2 separate regions of the Homo sapiens genome follow, and region 1 is linked to region 2. A link means that fine-mapping ties the variant in region 2 to the expression of a gene that starts in the linked region. Tissue or cell type: whole blood. Region 2 holds a variant in brackets; the other region holds the start of a gene. All regions are shown on one strand. Distances are from middle to middle.

What was found.
Region 1: CDYL2 starts here. The variant in region 2 is fine-mapped to the expression of CDYL2 in whole blood (INTERVAL, PIP 0.99).

Annotation. Positions count from the first base shown.
Region 1 is chr16:80,800,660-80,809,611 of GRCh38, forward strand. CDYL2 (chromodomain Y like 2) reads right to left here and starts at 3,939. Exons shown (of 7, transcript NM_152342.4): 1 at 3,491-3,939. The coding sequence starts at 3,514. RefSeq lists silencers at 2,720-2,869, 3,150-3,219, 3,830-4,139, 4,160-4,219.
Region 2 is chr16:80,754,106-80,763,057 of GRCh38, forward strand. All of the region lies in intron 1 of CDYL2 (chromodomain Y like 2), which reads right to left. Among named protein-coding and RNA genes, the nearest start is that of CDYL2, 46 kb to the right of the region's middle. The variant T/G (reference allele first, on the strand shown) is at 5,097.

The DNA of each region.
Region 1 (8,952 bases), 47 kb after region 2:
CATGAGCTTGGGAAAGAAAAAGACAATAGAGGGTAACACTCAACAGAAGGACAACGAAGGTCACACAAGGGTACTTTATATACTTAAACCAGTCTTCTGCTCACTGATTCAGTCAACAAGTAATTGAACGTACAAGCAGGTAGAAACCCAGAGAGAGACAAGAAAACTGAGAGCCTATCCCACTGATTATTTCTTCCTGACACCCAAACATCTTAGCAAAAGATTGACTAGAATCAGGTTGCAAACTCTAAAGTCTACTGGAGCCCAGTGAATGATTTAAGAAGAATGGGTGCCTGGTAATAGGGAGCAAGGGGACAGGGACAAGCTAGAGATCATATGCTCCATCTAAAAGTGTTCAAATCGTTTTTCTTATCTACCATTGAGCCAAGTCAAAATGCGTATGCAGCCTAGACCTGGCTCACAGGCTGCCACTCCATGGCCCCTATGTTTAGCCGAATATAGACCAGGGCATCTGGCTAAGAAATTTCACTTTCGATCCAGACAGATACCTGACTCTAAGACATAACCCAAAATTTAAAATCACCTTCCTATAAGTGATGGCTACAATGCACCAGAAGATGATGAGAACTCCACTACAGGAGAAACAAACCAGAACTATCTATCAAGATCCAAGATTTTGGAACCTGAGCTTGATTTCTTATTTCTTCACTATGATTGAAGAGTGCTATTACATAAACAAAGTTTTCGTTTTCTGGTGTCTTTAAAAATCAGCACCTATTCCTAACAACTGCTTTATGGAGGTTCACTCTTTACAACTTAATTGTCTGAAATGCCAAAGAAAAGATGAAGAATCTCTACAATCCAAATCACACTTCACCATAAAGGCTCAAAGATAATGTCAGCAGACACACAGGTGAAATATATCAATTACAAACGTAAGAACTCTTGGCCCACTAAAAACGTGGTTTCTTGAGTAGAGATTGCGAGAAGCCATTTTATGTACACTTTAGTATAATATTTAATGAAAGTAATAAACAGGTCTCATAATTTAGAATGAAATCTGTTTTCTTTTTTTCCTTTCAAGGCCAGTCAACATACACTGGATATTCCAATATTTTTCTTAAATCAATATGCTACTTTTTACCCACATAACAACTTTACAGTCAGAAATATATATGCTAATGTACACTTAGCACTTCTTAATTGTTCTTAAAGCTAAATTTGAACAATAAATTAAATTTCTCAGTATATGTTATGTAATGTAGACACAGGCTATAAAAATGTTGACATTCGTTATATTCTCGTAATGCAATTTAGCCCTTTTAGTAATGACTATGCAAATAATCAGCCATGGGAAAGCCATTTTCCATCTAGTACAATTACCTACTATCACAGAAGTAATTATTATTATTGTCCTCCTTAACTGAAATTCTATAAAAACTCTTGAGATACTAAGATAGTTCCAAGGCCACCGTGAAAACTCTCCTCTTAACAGACTAATCTGGCAACGACAATTACCAGCGTTAAGGAGGGCAGTTGCAGATGAACATTAAACAAGAAATTATCCCCAGAAGGTTCATAAGTTCTAAACTTTAAATGGGGAAATACTGATGACTCCTAGTACATCCTCTTAACACCTTCAAGACACAACTTTTCACTCAGGCAAGGTCAACAGCTCTAAGCTGACTCAACCTCAATTCGTAGAAAACCATGATTCCAACCAGATCACTTTCACCCCTAAACAATATCTACTTTTAGCCAATGTCCCCACAGTACTGGTTACACATAAGGAAACTCAATCAAACCTTCTATTTTACTGTGCTTCAATTTTCAATTTCAGAAATTGTTCCACCATCTTGAAACAGACCAAGGCGCTTGGGTGATCCATTGGCCACATTTGCCGAAGTTCTTCACAAGATCTCTATCCAACTTCACCTTGTCTCTTAGCATAGAGATGAGGACGGCCACAGGGTAGTGAAGAGGGCAACATACACCATTCTTTCAAGGAGCTCTAAGGTCTCCCACCCACCCCACCTGAACCTGCTGGCCGGCAGTCCAGGCCTGGGCCTCACCAACTCCAGAATCATTCACAAGAACATGGTCACACAGGAGACCTGTGCTCCTTTCTCCATTCTTCTTCTCTAACGCCAGTCAGCAAACCCACCACCTGAAAAAGCTTCAACTGCCCACGAGGGCCTAGAGGAAAGAGCTTCTTAGGAATCACCCCCTGCAGTCTGTCGTGGGTGGATCACCCTACAATGTCTTATGCAAAAGGCTAATTCTACCCCTTCTGGGTGCTTATCTCAATGGAGCCCCAAAGCCTTAAGAACCAGATGGCGTTAACCAATTTATGTTCCGGGAAGTGCAGGTCCAGGCTAACCCATGCGGCTGGTTTCACGGAGGCCCAGAAGGCCCTCTGGTTGAAGATGGCTGGTCTCTTAACTTCTTTATCCTGAACCTGGTCTTGGCGGCCAACACCTCTGAGGCCATTCCCTCTGGGGAGTGGTGGCTGGCTGTTCCTTGTGTTGTCCACTTGTGGAAAACCCAAAGCAGTAACAGTTGTGTTCCTAAGCCCTTGCTCCCCAAAGACCATGGGTGTTCCTCCATTGTTTGAAAGATGCCAGACTAATGTCTTCCTTCGCCACTTTTGGGAAGACATGAGAGTATCCAACGCTGGCCACTACTCATTAGGACCTGGAGCCAGGTATCCACTGAGGGTGACGAGAGTACTGGGCGCTGGGCTGGCATCTGTGTCCTATGTCCCCAACACCTCAGACTTCCACGTTCTCCTCCCACCCAGGGCCCTCCGCAGCGCCCCCTTTCGCCCCCAGGGAGCACGACACCCGCAAGGGCCACCCCCACGCCCGAGCCCGGAGGGCGTCCGAGCTGGTGCGGGGGCAGCAGGTGGGGGGTGAGGGAGGTGGCCCGGGGACCCCGGGGAGCGGTTTGGCGGTTGTCCCCCCGAACCCCCACCCAGCCTCCCCCTTCGCAGCCCCCCGGGACCCCGCCTCGCCCCGGCCAGGCTCCGCTCCGATCGCCCGCCCCCCTCCTCCCCCGCGCCCCCGGCCCAGCCGGGCCGCGCAACCCCCGCCCCACACCCCCGCCGGCCGCGGCGCGCCCCCCCGCATTCCCAGCACGTCCGGCGCCGACTTTTACCTGTACTTTCTGTACTCGAGGCGGCTCGTCGGGCGAGAAACACCTCCCCGGGACCGCTACCTCCCCCGCCCCGGCTCCGCCCGGCTTCCTCCTTCCCCTCCAAGGCCGCAAAGTAGATGGAGTAAGAGAGTGTGTGTGCGAGAGAAAGAGAAAGAGGGAGCGGGCGCGGGCGCCGCGGGAGGCGGCGGGCGGCGGGCGGCGGGCGGGAGGCGCGCCCGGCCCCCGCCACCCTCCGGCCGCCGCCGCCGCCGCCGCGGGCTCGGCAACTCCGGATTGCGCCCGGCCCCGGCCCCGGCCCGGTCCCCGCCGCCCGCCGCCGCCGCCCGCCGCCGCCCGCTGACTGGGGCCGGCCCGCGCCCCCGCGTCCCCGTACCTCGTAAAGGTCCCCAGAAGCCATGCCAGGCTGCGGAACTTGGCTCGCCGGTGTGCGCGTCTGCTCGCTCGCGCCCTCCGTGCGTGTGCGCGCGGGGTCCGGTGTGCGCGTGTGTGTGCGCGCGTGTGTGTGCGAGTGTGTGTGGTGTGTTGAGTAAACTGTGTTTTTGCAGAATGACAGGCTTGGGGGCTGCCTATGCGCAGAATCAGAGCGGGCGGCGGCGGGGCTGGCGTAACCGGCAGCAGCGGCGGCGGCGGCGGCGGCGGCACGAGCGCGGGCAGCAGCGACGGCCGCGCAGCGCGCCCGGGAGGCACGGACGCGGCCCGAGCGCCGCGGCCCCCGCGACCCGGCGACCCGGCGGCGGTGGCTGCAGCCGGCAACGGCTCGCCCCGGCGCCGCCTGCAGGAAGCCGCCCGGCGCCCGCCGCCGGCCCGGACGCTGCTGCCACTGGGCGAGTCCCCGCCCCCCGGGAGCCCGGCCCGGCCCCCGGGGCGGGGAGGCGGGGGCTGCTGCCCGGCCGCGCCCCGGGGGACCGGTCCCAGAGTCGACTAGCGCTCGGGCCCGCCCCGCCACCCCGGGCCGGCTTCGGGAGCAGCTGGCGGGGCCCCCGGGGGGCGGCGGGCCAGGTGCCCGCCGGGTGCGCCCGATCTGGGGCCGCGAAGGGGCGGCCGGGGAGCCAGGTAGAGGGCTGCGGCTGCAGACCTCAGGGAAGGGGCCCCAGCCGAGCCCCGCCGGCCCGGGGTCCCCACCTACCTCCTCCACCCTCGAGGGGAGTGGACGCCGCCTGGGAGACCTGGCCCCTCGGGGCTGCGCGGCCCCTCCCTCCAGGCTGGGTTGTAAGATGTGGAGGCCACAGGGAGGAAGGATGAAATGGCCCATCCAGAGGCACCATGGGGATCCAGGACAGGCGTGGCCACCCCATAAACCCTGGAAAGTCTTTAGAGCCAGGGGTGGCCTTCCCTCAACAACCCCTCTCCCCGAATTTATTCACTCATCCCTTACTCAAACATTTACCAAAGTCAACCCAAGTGCACAGTGTCCCTGGACAGGCAAAACTGGGACCCTGCCCAGAGACAGTTTGAATCCGCAAGTGAGGAGTGTAATGGAGCACTCAGTTGTTCTAAAAGGTCATCCTGCGTGTGACAGGCTGCGGAGCTGGAGGAGCTAGAGAAGCTCTCCAAAACCCAAATCCGTTCCTAAGCCATCTCTCATGGATAAATGGTCACCCCTCTGCTTAAAGGGTTCTCCTTATAAATATTTATGTATATAGTTACTTCAGAACCTGCAAGGTCAGACTTCTGAAATTGGAGGGAAGATCTTCATCCCCACCCATGAAATGCCTGCCTGGCTCCAGATGTGATGTATCATTAACTCACATGCTCCCTGGATCATTTTCTACTTGGGAGGCTGTGGGCAGGTCACCGAACCCTGATGGGAGATGGTGATAGTCACCTAAGTGATTTAAATAGAATTAAGGAGAGGATCTACGTATACATGAAGTGACCTGTCCATCCCAGCAGAACTCAATAAAGGTGATTTGTATCTGAGTCTCAACCTGGACTGCCCTCATGGAGAGTGAGATGGCAGAGGGGCTCGATAAATTGTTTAATCCTGAGGTTGTCAAACTTTGAAAAGTCACCAAATTTTTTAATCCAAAAAAAAAAAAAAAAAAAAAAAACTCCATGGAACCTGAAGCATGTCTGGCTCATTCCAGGACACATGGATTTGCATTTGCTGTTCCCCCTGCCTAGAATGTCCTTCCACATTGAATCCATCTGGAACATTCTTGTTCTTCGTATAGGGGCTTGTTTATCTTTGTATCGCAAGCATCTTCCACTGTTCCTGAGAGAGAGTAGGTACACAGTGATTGTTTTTCGAACTATGCCAATATAACAAATTTTATACCAATTTCTAGTTAAAATCCCGCATGAAGATAAGGAAAAAATGGTGAGGATAAGGAATTAATAAATCAGAAAGCATATTTGGCTTAGAAACTGTTGAAATTGTTATAGAACTTCTCTCTTCATATTGATATTTTCCCGGTGGTCATGGTTTTAAATAATAACAGTAATAATAAGCAGTTCTCTATCTGTAGGTAGCTAAACAAATTTTAATGAGTCTTAATTTGTACTCACGAATAAATGCACCACCATAGCATGAGGATGTAATTTGGAAGAAGACAAGAAGGAAACTGGGCTTGGAAATAATATACTAAGCCAAATTTGAATATATAATCAGTAGTTTTACAAAAACACCAAAAGCTTGACTTGTACTGGCCAAGTACTCCCTGAGAATGTGAGTGCAGTTTGAAAAACCCTAGTCTAGACAACAGTTGTTTACAGAGTTCACAGAAGAGGATACTTAGTGTGGATGACCATGCTCAGGAAATGTTTTAGGACTGAAATGGATCTTGAAGACTCATAGAAAAGGAAGGACAGTGTTTTCCGTGAGGAGAAGAAGTCAGAGTAGATGGTAAGCAATTCTGCTATGGGAAGGGTATGAGAAGATTGGAGGACTGGTTTATGGAGGTCACAGGACCCTGGATGGTGAATGTGGGTCAGTTCGGAGATAGTCTTGAAAGCCAAGCTAAGAAGTTTGCTATTTAGTAGGTCAACAGTGGAGAAACTGATGAAGACTTTTGAATCAATCAAAAGCATGTGACTATCAAAAGTGCACTGTAGAAAACAAATTCTAGAAGAAATATGGGAAATCAACTGCAGGGTTTGAGGTTAGGGGCAGGGAGACCAATTGCAATGGTCCCTGGTGTTAGCAGTGGAAATGAAGAAGAAAAATGGGATTTGCGAGATGTTCAGAAGGAAGAACCAGGCTAACTTTCATTATGGTTACTCCACCTACTTCCATGAAGCATTCGATTCAGATCAACAGGACTTGATGACTAACAGGATGTGTGTGCATTGAGGACTTGGGGAGGGGCCGCGACTAAGGAAAGGATACAGAGATGACTAAGGTTTTAAACTGAGTGACTGAGCTACCCATCCGTCATAACACAATTTTATTTTGAGCTTACCCCCAGACCATGGCTAGCTTCCAGAAAAGGCAGGTGCTTCCTGAGGGATGAAGGGGGGAAGGGTCTTCACCCACTGTAGGAAGTTCAGCCCAACCAATTAACAGTGAGGCTCTAGGTTCTCCAGATGATAGAGAACTAGTGTTGCTCATGGAGAATGGAAGATAGCTGCCATCTTCCACAAACTGTGGTAGACTATTCATATTGGTCGTAACTCAAGATGAACTGATAGAAAGCTCTAACTTAAAACAACAGAGTATTTCCTGACTCATATAGACTAGAAAAGGATGGAATTGCTCTCAGGATTGGCCGGATTCAAGGTATGAAAGGATACAAAATAGCCTCTCTTACTCTCTCCTTCTTTCTGCATGCTGGTATCTTTCCTGCTGAAGACAGGCTTCTTCCATGCAGCTGAGAATATGGCACCTGGCCACTCACCTGGGCTTATGCCTTATACAGTATTTCTAAATCCCAGGGAAGGACTCTATTGGGCCAATGTAGCTCATATGCTGTCTTACTGGTCCAATCACCATAGTCAATAACTGATAGGACACTATGATTGGCCAGGCTTAAGTCATACTCCTATCTATGGGAACAATATGACAATTGGCAGTTTTACCAGAATTACATGATGGGAATCGGGTCTGAGCAGAAGCCTAAAGGAATGGTGGAAGGAATACTGAAACGGTAGGTGTTTACGCCAAAACAAATCTGAGACAGAAAGGGAACTTAGAAGCAAGGGCAGTAGCTGCCTGGAACACGGCCTTTTTAATATAATAGAGCAAGACCAGCAAGTGTAATGTCCAAGGAAAGATCGTATCCACTGCCTTAACAGTGGCATTGAAATGTGGCAATATTCTCCTTCCGGTATTACTTGAGACATAATCTTGACCTCCTGTATCCTGTGGTGGCTGAACATGTGGGCTCCAGAGGCAGATGGCCTGGGTTCCAATTCTTGCATCATCACTACTAGATATCTGGTGTCAGCCTCTTTGTTTAACCTCTCTACCCTTCCATTTCCAAATGTATGTGTTATTTATTACTGCATGATGAATTATCCCCAAAACTTAATGGTTTTAAACAAAAGGTTTTTCTAATTTCACAGTTTGTGTGGGTTGTGGATTTGACAGCAACTTAACTGGGGGTGGTTCTGGCTCAGGATCTCTTGTGAGATTGCAGTCAAAATGCTTGCTAGGACTGCATTGACCTGAAGGGTTGGCTGGGCTGGAGAATCCACCTCCAAGATGGCACCCTCATATGGCTGTTGGCAGGAGGCCTAAGCTCCTAGCCACATGGGTCTCTCCATAAAGTTGCTTGAGTGTTCTCATGTCATTCTGATCTTGGCCCCCCAAATCCAACAAAATGAAGCAAAACTGTCAAAGCTTCAACTCTTTCTAGCACAGAGCAGCTAACGAATCTGATGTTATAGTCCATGCTAAGAAGACTATTTGATGCACAGATGATTTACGACATGTCAGGTTGGATAACTGGAGATGTTATCTGATCCACACACCTCACTTTGAAGATGGAAAAACCAAGACCCACATTGGGTGATCCGAGAGAGAGAGCAAGGAGGAAGTCACAATGCCTTTGAATATCTCATCTTAGACACCAAACATAGTCACTTATTCTATTCTTTAGAACTGAACCACTAAGCCAAGCTCATACTCAAAAGGAAGCAAATTAGAATCCACCTTTTAAAGGGAGGACTATCAAAGAATTTATGGACATGGTTTAAAACCACCACACCCTATCTATAAATTGAGGTGATAGATACCCCATAGAGTTGTTTTGAGAATTAAATAAGCTAATCCATGCAAAGCATCTATAATAAGGGCTGAGTAATAGTCCCTGTTGTAATGACAACTATTACCCATTTCAAACTTAATATGAGTCACTAATATCCTTGAATGTCAAAGATTCCTATAGAAAGGCAGTAAGTCAAATAAAACCTTCAAACTGAGTATTGTTTTCAAGCTATGCAGAAATTCTTGTTACTAATTAGGCTTTATTTTCAGCATTCATTTGGTATATTTTACTTCCATAATAATGTTTATTATTATTAAAGTCATACTTATTTAGTATCTACAGTGTGCTAGATATTATTCTTGTTGAACAAAATAGTGTCCTACCCTTATGGAGCTTATTCTTGTTGAACAAAACAGTGTCCTTATGGAGCTTACAGTACAGAGGAGACAGAATAAACCAAGAAAATAAAACACATATATACATAATTTTATTTCAGGTAGTGATGTGAAGTAGGAAGAAAAGTGAAGCAGGTAAAGCGACAGGAACTGAGATGGAGGGTGCCGGGGACAGGAAGGGGTGCTGGCTTAGATAAGGTGCTTAGGCAATACCTCACTAAGGTGGTGACATTGCAACAGAAATTTGAACAAAATGAAGGAGGACACAAATCAAATCAAAGGGCAGAGAATGT
Region 2 (8,952 bases):
TATTTTACAAGCTCAACACAATCCTACTTTGCAACGTGTGCCCAAGAGCCGCCACTGTGCACAGGGAAGGGGACTGAGATGCTTGGTTAGAGAGACAAACTAATCAATCCTTGCCAACCAGTGACACATCAGCAAAGGAGGTGAAAATATCATGGTTCACCTGGAAAGAGGAGCTACAACCAACAGGTGGACAGAGCCCAAGGAGAGATATCCAGAATATATGGCTTTCTGGGGGCTGGGTGGACAAGAATCTAGGATTTGGAACAAACAGAGATTAAGCCACAAGCAAAGGCCACCCTAACATCATAAATTAGGAGATGTTGCTATTACAAAACAGGAATTTCTGCAGAGGAACTTTCCGGAGTTTGGAAAATATACCAGAATCCGAGAACCGTCAGACCCATTATGCTCCATAAACTGTGGCCTCACGTGGTCAAGAGTAATACTGTAGATGAAGGCAGTCTAGCGTCCACCCTCCTGGCTCCACAGCTTCTCAGTGCTGTGACTCTGGACAAGTCACTTAGCTGTTGTAAGCCTTACTTCCCTTATCAGTAAAATGCAGATGGTACTAACTCCACATCAGGGAGGATTCCGTGAGGGAATACACATAGCACACCTGGCATAGAGCATGAGCTCAATAAGTTATTAGTTTGAGCTTTTAGAGTTGCAAAGGGAGTGTGATGGGGTTTGGCTCTCTTTCTTTCTAAAAAATTAATAAACTGGGAAATCAAAGGGCTCCCAGGGGAGCCTCCTGTATCAGGGAAGGGAGCAGGGTATCAGATGGGAAGGTAGACATTTGCTGTTTCAATGAGATGCCCCCATGATTTACGAGGGGAAATATCATTAGGATTTCACTTCTGGAACTTGGGCAGTCACCCACCAACAAAGCCTGCCCTTCAGCTGAAGGGAAAAAGCAGGTGCTTGGGAGCCAAATAGACTTGTGCTTAAATCCTCAACCAGCCGCTGACCTTGGACTTCAGCCCTCACCTCCCCTCTCACAGCCTTGGTTTCCTCATCCACATCCTATTTAATGCACACATATATTTTAAGATGACAAAGTATGTGACATGTCCATCCTGGTTACTCAGCAAATGTAAATTTCTCCTATGTGGCAGTAGGGACTCTAAGAGGCTGTGTTTGGAGAATGGAGGAAACCTGAATCTTAGCCTTTAATTACCAAGGAGTCTGGACATCTTGAATCCATGTAAGGTGAATTGGAAGGGCTTCCTTGCTCCCTCACCTAAGAGTCCCCCTCAGGAAAAACAGAAATCAGTGGAGAACCAGAGCCCATACTCGGCACTTCACAGTTTATCTGCAGAGAGACCTGACATCCTGTGGAAAACAACTCTGAATACCTACAGCCAAGAAATGGCATAGCTTCCCTAATGGTTCACAGGGCCAATAAAGAATCTGGCCAAATCTATCAAAAGCCTAGAAAACATCCTTACCCTTTGACCTGCTCATTTTGCTTCTAGAAACTTATCCCAAGCAAACATTTGAGATACTTATCCTCAGAAACTTATCCTAAGTACCTGAGATAGAGAAAAATACAAAATGCTCATCACAGAGTTACAAAGAAATCACAAAGAACATCTGACAACACCAACAGTACTGTACAATGCAAAAAGTAGACCCTAACTTAAATTATGGATGTAACTTAATGATAGTGTATGAATATTTGTTTCTCCAATTTTATCAAACGTACAACACCCATAGAAGATGTTAAAACAGTGGAGACTATGGGAGCAGGGGGAGGTAATACATGGGAACTCTGTACTTTCTGCTGAATTTTTCTGTAAACCTAAAACTGCTCTAAAATAAAGTCTACTATACCCTTAGTCATTTAGGAAACATGCTCTTAAATAACTACTGGGTCAAGGGGTAAAGAAATGGAATTACAAATTAGTTAGAAAATAGCAATAATGATAATAACACACATAATAATTCATAATAGTGATATGGCCAAAACTACAATCATAAGAAAATTATTAAATGATGTTGTCATTAAATAAGAAAGGATAAAACTAAACGCACCAGTGGTCCAACTTGAGAAGTTAAAAAGAGAACAACAAAATAAAAACTAAGAAAAACAGAAATGAAGCATTAACATAATTAAAAGTGGAAATTTATTCATTAAAAACCAAATAGTGGTCCAACTCAATTCTCTGAAAAACCTTACCCAAAACAAATTCTACCATCCACAAACCTCTGTCTAGTCTATTTAAAGAAAATGAGAAAACACAAACACACACAATGAGGAATATTTAACAAGGGAATTTGTTAACAAGAATAAAAGAATATATAACAAAAAATGGCAGTAATTCAAAAATGAGAGGAAATTATTTAGAACAATAAATTTGAAAATCCTCAATGAAACAAGGAATTTTTTGGGTAAATACAAATGAACACAACTGACAATAAAAATAAACAACATCAAATTAACCAAAAGCTATAGGTGAATTTGAAAAGGCTGTTAAGAATGATCTCTGAAGCATTATAAAATGTTTCAGACGACAGTAAAAAAAGGAACACTTTTCCACTCATTTTATAACATTTAATGACCTTGACAGAAAAATCTAATAATGCACAGTACACACTAAAACCACAGTCCAGTGTCACTTAGGAATATTCATTTTAAAAAATTAAATAAAATATTTTTAAATCCACTAGTATAACAGCAGAAAATATACTTCCATCAGCAGAGATTGGTCCCAGAAAAAGAAGTTATAAATTAGCATTATCATCGTATAAATTAGTAAAAAAAAAAACACATGATTTCATTAATTTTTCAAAGGCATCTGATAAGTCATTTCCTGTTTTTAAAAAATAGTCAACTAAGACCAAAAGAACAATCCTAGTCTCAAACTAACAGCCAACATCATACTTATGGTGATGTAATAATGACATTCCCATTAAAACCATGGGTAAGACTCCCATCACAATTAATATGTAACACCAGTAAAAAAATGCTAGCCTACCAAACAAAGCAAGTAAAAGAAATAAGAGCTTCAATTACCAGGACAGACAGAGAAAATGACCACTGTTTGCTTAGGATACAATTGAAGTTAAAATATCAACTAAGACAAGCAGACTTTAATAACTAAAAGAGAGTCACAAACATAGCAGGCTATAAAATAAGTATTCAATAACCAATAGTTTACCCTATAAAATTAACAAGCAAAAAATATATTTGGGAGGCTGGGGCAGGAGGAATGCTTGAGCCTAGGAGTCCGAGACCAGCCTGGGCAACATAGCAAGACCCTGTCTTTACAAAATACTTAAAAATTAGTTGTGTGTAGCGGTGAATGCCTGTAGTACTAGCTGCTCAGGAGGCTGAGAGGGGAGGCTTGCTTGAGCCCAAGAGTTCAAGGCTGCAGTAAGCTTGATCATTCTACTGCATTCCAGCCTGAGTGACAGAGCAAGACTCTGTCTCAAAAAAAAAAAAAAAATATATATATATATACACACACACATATATTTTGAAAAATATTTGATATTTTATATCAAAATATTTGCCATTTTGATAAATATTTGATATCTATATATTTATTTGACATTTTATATATTTAACAGGGAAAGGTATATTCATAATAACAACAAAAGCAAAATTGAACAGAACAAAATACCTAGGGAAAAATGTAACAATATGTAAAATCCACACAAATCAAAATAACAAATTATTGGAGGACCTAATTAGACCTAGGTAAATTAGAGAGATAAGCCAATTGGCCTATTATAAATGAGTCTATTCTTTCCAAGTCTACTAATAAATACCATTCTGATCCCAGCTACTAAGATTTTATTTTACTTAAAAATTGACTCCATAAATTCATATGTAAGATAACTGGGCTAGTGTAGTCAATAAAACTTCGAAACACAAGAATACAAGGAAGGCTTTACTATAAATAAATAAATAAAATAAGGCATTCCAATACAGAGGTATGGTATCTAAGGAAGAATAAGACATTAGATAACTGAAAAAAATCAAAAGTCCAGAAATATTAATAGATCAATGATCTTAATTGTTGGTAAATGTGAGATTTCATATAAATGGGAAGTAAATGGATTAGTCAATAATCGGTGTTAGACACCAATTATTAATAATTAGTTACACAGAAAAGAACTTAGCTAAGACATTTTACCCCTATCTTTACACCAAAATAAATTTAGTATAAAATAAATTCCAGATAACTTACATATAGAAGTAATAATAACTACAATAATAAACAAAAGTAATAACTACAATAATAAACAAAAGTATAAAAAACCTAGATGTACATCTTGAGGTGGTTTTGCAAGGGGTTGGGGAGGTAATTTCGAAGTAAGAATCAAAATCCCAAATGTGTACAACACTGGATGCAGAAACGCTTTTTTCTAGGATTTTAATATACCATACAAGTGTGTAAACACATAAATACAGAAGTTTGCTGCAGCACTTTTTTTTTTTTTTTTTTTTGTGACTGAGTCCACACTGTCGCTCAGGCTGGAGGGCAGTGGCACGATCTCCGCTCACTGCAAGCTCTGCCTCCCTGGTTCACGCCATTCTCCTGCCTCAGCCTCCCGAGTAGCTGGGACTACAGGCACCCGCCACCACACCCAGCTAATTTTTTGTATTTTTAGTAGAGACAGGGTTTCACCGTGTTAGCCAGGATGGTTTCAATCTCCTGACCTCCTGATCCGCCCGCCTCTGCCTCCCAAAGTGCCGGGATTACAGGCGTGAGCCACCACGCCCGGCCTGCTGCAGCACTTCTAATCATATCAAAAAATCAGAAATATTCTAAAATTCCGAAGACTGGTTAAGGAAATCACAGTACCTCTGGGTTCTATAATATAAGAAAATACTAACCAGACATTAAGAATTTTGGTGTAGAAAAATATCTGACCCAGGAAAATATTTGAATAATTGCTAAATGGAAAACACATGTTACAGCATACTAAGACATATGACCCCATATGTACATACCTGGGTATAAATGTAATATCTACAAACCATATACTATATATATATATATATATATATATATATATATATATGGTTTATATAAATATATGGTTTATATATATATATATGGTGTGTATATATATATATAATTTGA[T/G]ATGTTAATCTACCTATGATATAGGTTAGTGTCTCTGAGTGATGGATGTATGCATAATTTCTGTGTTGGGTATATTTGTGCCTTTTGAATACTTCACATTTTCCACAGTGAATGGAGATGACACTTGAAATTTGAAAAAAGGTTAATGTTTTAAAAATTGTGAAATGTGCACAGAAAGTCTAGTCCTAAGCAATGTGATTTTTTTGTCAAGCGCTTCAATACGAACTGAACTCAAATGTGTATTGTCAGGAAACAAAATGATTGTTAACTATCGATGAGTCATGACCAATATGCCAGTTAAATATTATCTCATTTTAAAACAACAGGCTGAATCAGTGGGCAGGAAAAGTTTTGTGATGATGGTTATGAGTGCATCGATCAAATTGTTCCTTTTGGTTTGGGTTAGTGTTTGCTACTTCTGTGGCTTCTCTGAGGTGGAAAAACACATTTAGGAGAGTGAAATGATACCTGGAAGTAAATGTATAACCATAAAGATGCAAGTGCATGAGGAAGAACTGCATTGAGAAAAAGTCAACACACGACTGCATAACAACAACACATTCAGCAATTGCACAAACCACTTCAAGCCTAAACACACTTGTAAAAGATTCCCTAAGACCAGGAAACTACCAGGGGAATTCTAAGATTCCCTGAAACATGGGGAAAGAGCTTGAACTGTATTTTTTTGAGGTCCTGTCCTAAATTCTAGGAAAACTGACTCAGACTATTTAGAAATGACTAGAGTTACTAGAAATTACTGTCTCAGGGTAAATTAACTGTAGAGGCATAAAACCTTTTCAGACATTAGTACCCCAGTTTGAAACTATATTTCATTTTAAGAAAATGGCGAAAATTTAGATTTATAAATTGGGTGTCACTGTTCACTTTATAAAGATGGTTTGCTATAGGACTCCCTTAGACTAGCAGGCTGCTTTCATGCATGACGATATTATCCAACTTGGGGATGCATTAATCTATTGTGCGAGGCAAGGCACACCTCAACTAGGCAGTTTAACTGCACCAGCAACTGTCCCTAAGAAAGCCTCCTGTTACACACTTGAGAAAGTTCACTGCCTCTGGCTCATTAAAAACAGTGTCAATAGAGAATAGAAGAATGGCTATCACAGACTGTGAAGGGTAGTGGGGGGTTGGAGGGGAGATGGGGATAGTTAATGAGTACAAAAAAAATAGAATGAATGAATAAGACCTACTATTTGAAAGCACAACAGGGTGACTATAGTCAATAATAACGTAATTGTACATTTTAAAATAACTAAGAGTGTCAATGGATTGTTTATAACACAAAGGATAAATGCTTGAGGGAATGGATTCCCCATTGTCCATGATGTAATGATTACACATTGCATGCCTGCATCAAAACATCTCGTATACCCCATAAATATATGCACCTACTATGTCGCCACAAAAATTAAAAATTTAAAAAGAAAAACAGTGTCAAAATCATTGTATTCCTTGTAAGTATCTTCTCACCTACGCTTCTATTATTGACTGGGGGATAAAAATCTTATAAGCCAAACAGATCAACTAACTACCAGAGGGGGCAGTCCATCTAGAATGCAGGATAGATGAAATTAGAGCAAGAACATTCAGAGTTGAACAGTTATCCAGGGCCGTATTCTTGAAATCATAGAAACTGAAGGTTGCACTCACCCTGATGTTGAGCTGTCTCTTAAAGGGGAAAAAGAAACATTAAGGGCCGGTGCGTCTGTGGATTTAATGCGCAAAGGTGACAAAAACCAAATTATTAATGCCTGGGCAGTGAAGGTGATGGCAACCAAACGGACAATGTGCAATAGACTTCAGAATGTAGAGCGTTGTTAATTGTGAAGAAAAAGCCATACACTCAGTCCCACAAAGGAGAGAGGGTACAAGGACGCCAGCATCACCTGGCTGGGGGGAGACTTCTCAGAAATGCAGATTCTCAGGCCCCACCAGGGACCTACTGAATCAGAAACTCAGCAGGTGAAGCCCAGCAATCTGTTTGAACAAGCCCGCCAGGGGATTCTGGTGGGGCTCCAGGTTGAACCACCTGTGGTTACCAGGCAGCCATCTGGGTTCCAATCTATCACTGAGGACCTGTGTGACTTTGGAAAAGTTATTTACCACTGTGAGCTTCTGTTTCCTCATCTGTGAATTTGGGTTCATCGAAGTATGCGTTTTCATCAAACGGTTGTTGTAAGATTATAACACACCCAGAGCTTAGTAGAGAGCTTGACGTCTAGTAAAAGTGCCCCAAGAGTGGTGGTGCTGGTGGTCTTGAAGGTTCTTCTTTTTAATTATTGACAGTCCTGCCACAGCTCTCAAAATGAGTGTTCCCTGGCTCCCACCTCCCTGTAGATCAGAATCACCTGCGGAGCCTTTTCAACACATCATCCTTTGCAATTGTTGAATCAATAGATCTGAGAGAGGCCAGGAAGACCAGATCTTATAGGAGCCCCCAGGTGACTTAGATGTGAAAGCCCTAACTTTAGAAAACTAAAACATATTTTGAGATTCAAAAGGTATATCTACATCTATTAAAATACATACAACTATTATATGTTAATAAAAATACAAAAGAAGATGCTGGGAAAACTACTTTGGATATTTGAAAGTTACTTATTAAATATAATGCACATAAAATAACATGTGAATGTTCAATCTAATAAAGGAGAAAATTAAAAAAAAAAAAAAAAACAAAGACTGGCCAGGCACGGTGGTGCACAAAAATCCCAGCATTTTGGGAGGCCAAGGCAGGAGGATTGTTTGAGGCCAGGAGGTCAAGACTAGCCCAGGCAACATGGCAAAACCCCATCTCTACAAAAAATACAAAAATTAGCCAGGCATAGTGGTACACAACAGTAGTCCCAGGTACTCGGGAGGCTGAGGCAGGAGGATCACTTGAGCCCAGGAAGTCGAGGCTGCAGTGGGCCAAGATCATGCCACTGCACTCCAGCCTGGACAAGAGTGAGACTTGTCTCAAAAATAAATAAATAAAAAACAAAAAAACAAAGGCTACATCTATTGTCCAGAAGCGCTAGGAATAAAGTTCAAATGAACTTCAGAAGAGTCGCAGAGTGAAATTCTGACTATACAAATGCAGACCATCGCAAGGAAGAGAAGAAAGAACGTAAGAAAGCACGACTGTGCAAAGAGGTGAGCCAGGCTTCAACGGGAGCAAACCAAACGTGGAAAGAGCAGAATATGACTACAGTCCATACAAGCAGCACAGCTCCAAAAAGCCTGAACACGGTGGGCAACGCTAAAACCCAGAAGGAACTCACAATCGCCAAAGCGTCAGATGGCATCAAGTCATTTCAGGCCAAAGCGTGATGCAGAGGTCACGCCACTGCTTGGAAAAGTTGCTGCCATGGTGCCAGAGAAAACTACACTTGACCTCATTCATGTATTTCATACCTGCTAATTCACCTACTGTCTATAAAGTATTTGTAACCCCAAAATTATCCTTTTGGAGCTTGTCCAGTCTTTTGGGCACAAGCACAAAGCAGTGGAAAATTCATGTCATCAATTGCAAGTGTCCAGCTGAGGTGAAGCAAGGTGACTCTCTGCCTTCTTGTTTGAGCTCTCATAGGGCAGAGACGTGTCCTTTCTGCTCCCTGGTGTCCCTAAATGCAAGAAGACTGTCATGTGCCTAAGGACAGAATGTGTGTGTTACATCTGTGAGCTTCATTCAAGCATGAGCTACAGTACTGCTGGCCATGAGTTCAATGTTAATGATCCACAATATATATTTAATAATGTGTCTTTAAAGAGAAACACACCATAAAATTAGGTTATATATTAAATGGTTGACAGAAACATTGTGACCAGAGGCTTACAACTGTAGTCCCAGCTA